Linked DNA regions of Homo sapiens: region 2 is linked to region 1. The links come from fine-mapping of genetic effects on gene expression. A gene starts in region 1. The other region holds a variant in brackets. All regions are shown on one strand. Distances are from middle to middle. Region 1 holds the start of CCL3-AS1 (CCL3 antisense RNA 1). Region 2 overlaps CCL4 (C-C motif chemokine ligand 4).

Evidence for each region. PIP is the estimated chance that this variant, and not a neighbour inherited with it, causes the effect. A credible set is the group of variants that fine-mapping cannot tell apart.
Region 2: its variant is the best candidate, but not a certain one, in a credible set for the expression of CCL3-AS1 in whole blood (TOPMed, PIP 0.69).

What each region holds. Positions count from the first base shown.
Region 1 is chr17:36,072,662-36,077,055 of GRCh38, forward strand. CCL3-AS1 (CCL3 antisense RNA 1) reads left to right here and starts at 1,952. Exons shown (of 3, transcript NR_186417.1): 1 at 1,952-2,187; 2 at 4,049-4,141.
Region 2 is chr17:36,104,635-36,108,975 of GRCh38, forward strand. CCL4 (C-C motif chemokine ligand 4) reads left to right here. Exons shown (of 3, transcript NM_002984.4): 2 at 1-8; 3 at 591-980. The coding sequence ends at 678. Among named protein-coding and RNA genes, the nearest start is that of CCL4, 3.0 kb to the left of the region's middle. The variant C/T (reference allele first, on the strand shown) is at 1,937.

The DNA.
Region 1 (4,394 bases):
TCCCTTCCGCCGCCCACCGGCTCCCCCATTGTATTGACTCCACATTGCCCCCTGCTGGTGAAACAAGTGCGAAGGTCAGCGTCTTTAGCTCCCTGCCTCTGATGAATACAGCTGCACCTTCACAAAGAGCACAGCTGTTCATTGTGATGGTTAATGTTACGCGTCAACTGGACTAAGCTAAGGGATACCCAGGTAGCTGATAAACATCATTTCTGAGTGTGTCTGTGTGGTGTTCCAGAAGAGATTAGCATCAGAAGACTAAAGAAGATCTGCCCTCACCAATGCAGGCAGGCATCATCCAATTCACTGAGGTCCCAAATAGAACAAAAAGGCTGAGGAAGGGTGACTTTGCTGTCTGCGTTTGAGCTGGGACATCCATCTTCTCCTGCCCTCTGACATCCACGCTTCCGATTCTTGAGCCTTCAGACTCAGACAGGGACTTGTACCATCACCTACCCTTCTTGACCCCTTCTCAGGTCTGTGAACTTGGACCAGGACTGACAACTTTGGCTGCCCTGGTTCTCAGGCCTTCAGACCAAATCACACCACTGGCTTTCCTGGTTCTCCAGCTTGCAGATGGCAGGACTTCTTGGCTTCCGTAATTGTGGGAGCCAATTCCCCTAATAAATATCTCGGTATTTATATCTATATCAACATTGGTATCCAATCTATATCTATAGAGAGAAATAGCCTACTGTTTCTGTTTTTCTGGATAACTGACTAATACATTCATTTTATCATCAAGATAAATATTTACAATGTGGGATCTGAGAAGGAGGTGGATTTGGCTGCTTCGGGACCTGCTTTCCTGTCCTGCCTAATCTCTCACCTCCTCATTTTTGCTTATATTAACATTAGCTTGGACTGGAAAATTCTGCTCTTCTAGTCCTGCAAGCTCCAGATCACAGGATTCTTAATTAGCTTGGTTTTCAGGCAGCAAGCAGAAAGTACATTTCTTTAAAAAACTACTTTTTTTCCCCTTCTCTGCTATCAGAAGAATCAGTTTCAAAGTAAGTTAATTTCTTTCTTAGTGGGCCTTACTAAGACTGATGCAAGAAATAGTCTCCAATACCCTGAATTTTCGTTTTTGATAAAACTTTGGCTCGAAGATGGACTTAGAATATATAACAGGCCATGGGGGTAACCGGCAATTTTGGTAACTAGAGGTATCCCCACTGACTTTGACCTTAGCTACTGCCTTCAGCCAGTTCCACGTTTGGGGACCCATACTTACAACATTGCAGTCTATGTTAGTTAGGGATGGTTTAAGTCACAGTGTCAGAAAAATAACTCAATCTGGCTTAAATGATAAAGGGAACTTATTAGTTCACATAACTGAAGCTTCAAGAAATAGAATTAGTTTCAGGCAAAACTTGATTCAGTGGTCCTTGTTTCGCTATGGACTATACATGTCTTTCTGAATTTCTGATCTCCCTGCATTTGAGAGCTTCATCCTAGAAAGAAGTTACTATATTCATCCTAGTTACTCTATTGGCAGAATAGCTTCCAGAAACTTCCAGAGCAAATTGGGAAGACAATGTCTGTATCCTCGTATTTTGAGCCAAGAGCCTGAGTTCCACTTTTATTGGTCTGGCTGGCTTGGATTAAGAGCCCATCTCTTAACCCAGGGGCCAGCAAACTATGGCCATTGGGCCCAATTTGACCTACTACCTGTTTTTGTATGGCCTGCGAGCTAAGATGTTTTTACATTTTAAGTCATTGAAAACATCCAAAAGAAGATTATTTTGAGAAATATGAAAATTGTATGAAATTGGAGTTTTAGTGTCCATAAAAAAGTTTTATTGGAATGCAGTTGGGTTTATTTGTTTCTGTATTGTTTACAGCCCACAGTCTAGCAAGGACTCCTTACCTGGAATGAATCATATTTTCATACGACAAAGCAGAGCTGAGTAGTTGTGAAAGACACTGTATGACCCACAAAACCTGAAGTAGTTTCCATTTGGTCCTTTACAGAGCAAGTTTGCCAACCTGTATCTTAATTCATCTTTGTGGCCAGAGAAGTGGATTTACTGATTTGTTTCAGCTGATCAATGTCTATAACAAGCAATGTTGATGGGCTGAAAACCACACAGACTACCAGAGGGGTTGCTTTTCCGAAGAATCATGTAAGGATAAAAGAGAAAGAAAGAGAGAAAGACCTTGGAACCCAACTAGTATCTACCAAATGTATGTAACTTTCTCATATTAATTCTGTCTTTATATGTGAAGATGACCAATCCCCTGCCTGTGATTACATCACATCAAGCATGTTCTTCCCAAATTGGGGGTTCAATTCAGACTCTCCTGTTATATGCCAGTTGTCTTAGGGATTTTCTCACTTTATTCAACACTATACTCAATTTTTACATTAATAATGCAGTAATAATATACCCCTTTGCCATTCTGTATTTTCCTGTATAATAATAATTATTATTGTTATTATTATTATTTTTTGAGACAGTTTTTGTTCTTGTCGCCCAGGCTGGAGTGCAATGGCATGATCGCAGCTCACTGCCACCTCTGCCTCCTGGGTTCAAGTGATTCTTGTGCCTCAGCCTCCTGAGTAGCTGGGATTACAGGCACGCACCACCACGCCCAGCTAATTTTTGTATTTTTAGTAGAGATGGGGTTTCACCATGTTGGCCAGGCTGGTCTCGAACTCCTGATCTCAGGTGATCTGCCCGCCTTGGCCTCCCAAAGTGCTGGGATTACAGGCGTGAGCCACTGTGCCTGGTCTTTCCTGAATTATTTTACCGGTTTTGTAAAAAGATTTTGATCGGGATATACCCTGTTGCCCCACAAATGATGGCTAGTTCCCAAATCTGAGACTAAGTTTTCATTATAGACTTTATATTCTAAACTAAGTCACTAACAACTGGGGCCAGACAATCCTTCCAGGGCATTGTAGACATAGGAAAAGGAAAGAAAGTGGCCAGCCTAGTGGGTTCCACCTTTGTGAAGGAGAGGTCTTTACTTCTAACTGCTCTTGAAGCCCAGTGAAGGGGTCTCCAGAGGGTAACTTGTACAAACTGGAAGTACCTGCAAACAAGGCAACTCATTTTCCAGTTGGATGTCAGCTTACATGGTGAACCTCATGATTTGCCTGAGCCAAAATGAGCAGGGGAGAAGAAAACAGAAGATAGGAACCAAAGCAGGGAAAAGGATTGCTGGAGGCTGCTCTCCCACCACATGGAATGAGCTTTCCATTGGCCGAGTGATCCTGTGGAAGGGAGCTGGGCTCGAGCCATCCTCCCAGTGACACTCCGCAAAGGTTGGGGGAATCACATGTCCCATTTTGTCTGGGAAATGACCCAGTTTATGCCAGTTGTGCCAGCATAGTTATTAATAGTAACCCCTTTGAGTCTTAAAGTGCTCATCCTACCAATAGGAGATCCACTGCTTAGCTTACAAGGATCTTAACAGCAGTAGCTGATGGGGTGGTCTCAGGGCCGCTGTCTACAAAGGCCCCTGGATGTGTGGGCAAGAGGGTGCTGAAAGCCAGTCTGCCCATCACCTGTAAGGTCTTGCACTCACACAGGGCTAGGTGTGCTCCATGGTGCTTTTTTGTAACATGCTCAATGGTGTCTTCCAGGCTAGCAAAGGCCCAGGGTATGCTGCCAGTGGTGTGAGCAGAAGAGAGAGGTGAAAGATGTTGGGCAAGGGTGGGATCTCTCACCTAAGAAACTATGCAGAGAGAGGACCCTCAGGAATGCCCATCTATCCGAGGGAAATATACATGCATTGCCCATAACTTCAATATTTTTTTAAAAGATGCAGGGATAACCTAGCAGTGGGGGCAGGGACTACATCTGTAGGCAGTTAAAAGAATTCTTTCCCCTCTCTCTTTTAAACATTTAAATTAAAAAAAATTCTTTTAGAGACAGGGTCTTGCTCTGTCACCCAGGCTGGAGTACAGTGGTGTGATCACAGCTCACTGCAGACTAGAACTTCTGGGCTCAAGCGATCCTCCTGCCTCAGCCTCCTGAGTAGCTAGGACTATAGCTGCACACTACAATGCCTGCTAATTAAATTTTTTTTTTTTTTGTAGAGACAGGATCTCACTGTGTTGCCCAGGCTGGTCGCCAACTCCTGGCCTCAAGTGTTCCTCTGGCCCTGGCCTCCCAAAGCACTGGGATTACAGGTACAAACCACCACAACCAGCAAAATTTTCTCTTTATATTACCCCACACAGACAACCCCTCTTTCCAACATGCCAGAGGAGTTAAAAAGAGAAGGAGAGAGGGTATCTCAGAACCAAACTAAAGCTTCATCACACTCCAACTACCAGAGCCTGTTTTGCTCTGGTGAAGGGCGAGGAGAAAGGAAGAAGTAGAAATGTTAGTTAAGTCAAATTTAAGATTAGGGTTCTAAACTGAAGGAATTTTAATAACTGG
Region 2 (4,341 bases), 32 kb after region 1:
GCTGTGGTGTGAGTATCAACCCCTGGGCTGCCCTGGGAGGCAAGGGTGAGGGCTGGATTTTAAAAGAGGGCCTGTTTTGGGGAGGGGGTGATTGAGCATTGGGGAGGCAGCTCCCAGGGCTGAAGCCTTCCCTGAGAGCAGTGAGGACACAGGTCATGAACTCACTTTTCAAGTGCTGAAGGCGGCAGAGTGGGAGCCGAGAGAGAAGGGGGTTGCTGGGGAGGAAGTTATTCAGAGGACAGGGAAGCAGGGGAAGGCAGACAGGTCCCATGAGATATGGACCGATTCCTTAAACCGTGCTAGAAAGACATGTGGAAAAGTCACTGCCAGGCTGGCAGGGAATGGGGAGATCTATTCATATTGATTGCAATGCCCCTTGGTTCCTAATCTGGGCAACTCCTGGGGCCCACAGCTAAATCCAGTGGGTGGAAGTTACAGGGAGTCTGCTTCCAGTGCTGCTCCAGGAAGGATCCCATCCACCAGAGCTGCCCCACATGGACCATGGTCAGGCAGAGGAAGATGCAAAGGATAAAGCCAGATGACCTCAAAGGTCTCATGAGATTCTAATCTGTCCGCTCCTTGTTCTACAGATTCCAAACCAAAAGAAGCAAGCAAGTCTGTGCTGATCCCAGTGAATCCTGGGTCCAGGAGTACGTGTATGACCTGGAACTGAACTGAGCTGCTCAGAGACAGGAAGTCTTCAGGGAAGGTCACCTGAGCCCGGATGCTTCTCCATGAGACACATCTCCTCCATACTCAGGACTCCTCTCCGCAGTTCCTGTCCCTTCTCTTAATTTAATCTTTTTTATGTGCCGTGTTATTGTATTAGGTGTCATTTCCATTATTTATATTAGTTTAGCCAAAGGATAAGTGTCCCCTATGGGGATGGTCCACTGTCACTGTTTCTCTGCTGTTGCAAATACATGGATAACACATTTGATTCTGTGTGTTTTCATAATAAAACTTTAAAATAAAATGCAGACAGTTTCTTTGTGATTTTAATTTGATTTGGGGGTAAAAGGAATTGCCTGGTACCATTGGGAGGGACAAACTACAGTTTCCCAAAACAGTAAGAATGAGCAATTGCTGAGTCCTTAATATGAGCTCTGGGCTGAACACTCTTAATACACGATCTCACTGCGTACTTTCAACAAGGGTTTTAACACCCTTATGAACTAGGGACTGTTGCACCGAGTTTCACAGTTAAGGAAACAGAGGCACAGAGAGGTGAAGTGACTTGCTGAAGCTTGTAGGCCTGCTTGGGGAGTGTCATGAAAGAATGCCCCAGAAAAGGAGGTTATCATTTCAACATCTTGTGGGGGGAGTTGTAAAGAGGGGAAGCAGCACAGCAAAGGCGGAAGAAGAGTGAGAAGAGTGACTTCATCATCTTATTATTATTATAACATTGGGAAAGTCATCTTGCCTTATTAGACCTCGGTGTTCACAAGTGTGAAATGGGGATAATATTAACCACTTCGAAGGGCTGTTATAAGGTGATGTATAAAGCACCCATCATAGGACCAGGCACCTGGAAGTTTCTCTCCTTCCCTCTCTGAGCTTCAGCCTTTTCACTTAAAATGGACCTAGCAATTGTCAGGATCATCATGAGGATTAGATTAGTTAGTTGACAGATCAGCACTCTAAATCCCAATCTACTGTGAAGTGTTGTCATGAGGACAGCAGGATGGAGGTTTTGTTTGGAAGTGTTGCAGGAGTAACCTAAAGCCACTTCTACTTAATTATCCTTCAATCAGAACTGCCTATTCCATGGGTCAGACACAACACAACTCTGAAGTAGAATTACATGCACAATAAAGCCTGATCCATGGGACACAGACTCGTAGTCTACTAAAGCTAAAAGGAAAGTTTAGACCATCTGGTCCAACCCTCTCATTTTATGGAAACTGAGGGCCAAGGCCTGGGAAGTAACTTGCCA[C/T]GTGCCACTCAGCGAGTGCATAGCAGAGCAGGAGCCTGGCCAATGCCAGCTCCCAGGCTCGGGCCCTTTCCTGCACACCTTCCCTAGTGACGCATCTCTGTGGTCCTCAAAAGGGAGACCGGTTGAGTAAGAACAAGGCGGAGACTATCTTGAAAATCATTTGAGTGTTCTTAGTCCTATGCAAAAGCAGAATTGGGGCCCTGCACTTCTCTGGGGTCAACAGACACAATTCCCTTCCTTGTCCTGCCCTTAGTCACCCTCATCATTCCAGAGCCCCAGTGGAAACTTCTTTCAGATTCTGCGGGGACTGAGAGAAGGAGGTTAGGGGGCAGAGCTGATCCAAAACAGGTGTAGGAAGAGGCTAGCAGCAAAGAATGTGCCTGGCCATAGTTTCTGCTTTCATTTGCCTAGATCTGAGCTGTCTAATATGTTAGCCACTGGCCAAAGTGGCTATTTACGTTTTCATTACATTTAATTAAAATGAAATAAAATTTAAAATTCAGTTCCTGAGTCACACTAGTCACATTTCAAGTGCTCAGTAGCTCCATGTGGCTAGCTCCCATGTTAGACAGCACGGATTACGGGCTTTCTGTCCATCATTGCAGAAAGTTCTGTTGGAGAGCAGTCTCCTAGAATGTTCTCAGAGCCTAAAGAAAGTGAAGGGAAGGGGAGTTGGGATGGCCTGTAAGATTAGAGTGTGGATTTTGAGAAAGATATGCAATTCTATTCTGAGGCGACGGGATGGGAGAGAGAATGGATGACTCCAGGCCAGAGACAAGGTATAGATCACTACGGTAGCTGAATAATGGCCCCCGAGGTGCACACATCCTATTCCTCAGAACCTGTGAATGTCACTTTTATAGCAAAATGGACTTTGGAGATATGATCAAGTTAAGAATCTTGAGATGAGTGATTACCTTGAATTATTTGGTCAGGCCCTAAATGCAGTTGTAAGTGTCCTTATAAGGGGGAGGAAGAGAAGAATTTGGTAATAGAGGAGAAGATAGCAATGTGACAACAGAAGCAAGATGCTATGCTGCTGGCTTGGAAGATGGAGGAAGAGGCCAGGAGCCAAGAAGTGTTAGGATGCAGCTCTAGAAGCTGCAAATGGCAAGGAAATTTTTCCTCCCCTAGAGCCTCCAAAGGGAGTGTGGCTTAGTGAAACTAATTTCAGACTTCTCACCTCCAGAACTTTAAGAGAATAAATATGTGGTTATAAGATGTTAAGTGTGTGGTAATTTTTTACAGCAGCAATAGGAACAAATACAACCACCAACTGACGCGTCACTGATAGCGGCCCCCAATAGCTCAGTGTGGCAGGAAAGGGAGCATTCTAGAGGGTGAGCCAAACCTCCCTGCAGGAGGAACCCAGGGTGAGAGGGACACACCTCAAGGAGATGAACTATAATGAGGAGAGGCATCCCAAGAGGAGATCTGCTTCAGCAACTGAGTTCTGGGGCTGAGGCTTGATCCAGGGTCCAAGACCCTTAGGAAGCATGCCTCTTCTTGAGACATCTAGGGTGCTCTGAGGGGTCCTGGATTCCTGTCCGGGAAAGAATCCATCCTCTCATCTGTCAGATGCAGCCCAGAGCAGAGCCATGACCTGTCTCTGGTTCATTGTTGAGCAGGCAAGGTCAGGGCCAGAATCTGGGTCTTCTCCCTCACGATGGAGTCCCTTTCCCAATCCTCCCTGCCCCTCAGCTAATGGAAAGGGAGGAGCTCAGCTCCACAGAGGCAAGACCACCAGGGAAGGCTGCAGGAGGCCTGGGCAGCCTCATGAAGAAATGCTTCACCAGCAATTACAAACAGCAGAATGGAATCCTCGAAGTGGGGCAATGTGGGACTTCACCTGTTGCACAATATGAGACTGTTTTTTTCCTTTCTCCTCTTTTCATACAACTTCCTTTTCTCACCCTGGGCCCAGAGAGCTGGAATCTGCTTACTTGACGTTCCATTTGAGGTTTCTCCAGGTTTCCGGGTGGGGACAGAAGCCAGAACAGATGAAGCAGGACACTCGAAAGGAACTATGGATTATGGAGCAACTTCTAGGCATCCGGCCTGTTTTCCTACTCCTTGCAGTGCCCACCTCCCCCAGCTCACTCTCCAGATGGGAGTCCATTTCCTTATGTACATGTTCCTTTAGGACATGTTCATGCAAACATGTCCTCATCCCCCTATCCCACCTCAACCTGGAACCCTCCATCATGCTCCCATTGACACAGGCATTTTCCTCCAAGGAGGCCAGGAGCCGAGCAAGCAGAGGCAGGGATCAAGGGAGCAAGATGAGCTGAGGATGGTGACATAGCCACAGCTCTTCCTCGAGGCTGAGACCAGAGACCAGGTGGCAGTCCTGTACTGCAGTCTGCATTCACCCTTTACAGACTTGAGGGTCTTGGCGCCCTCTC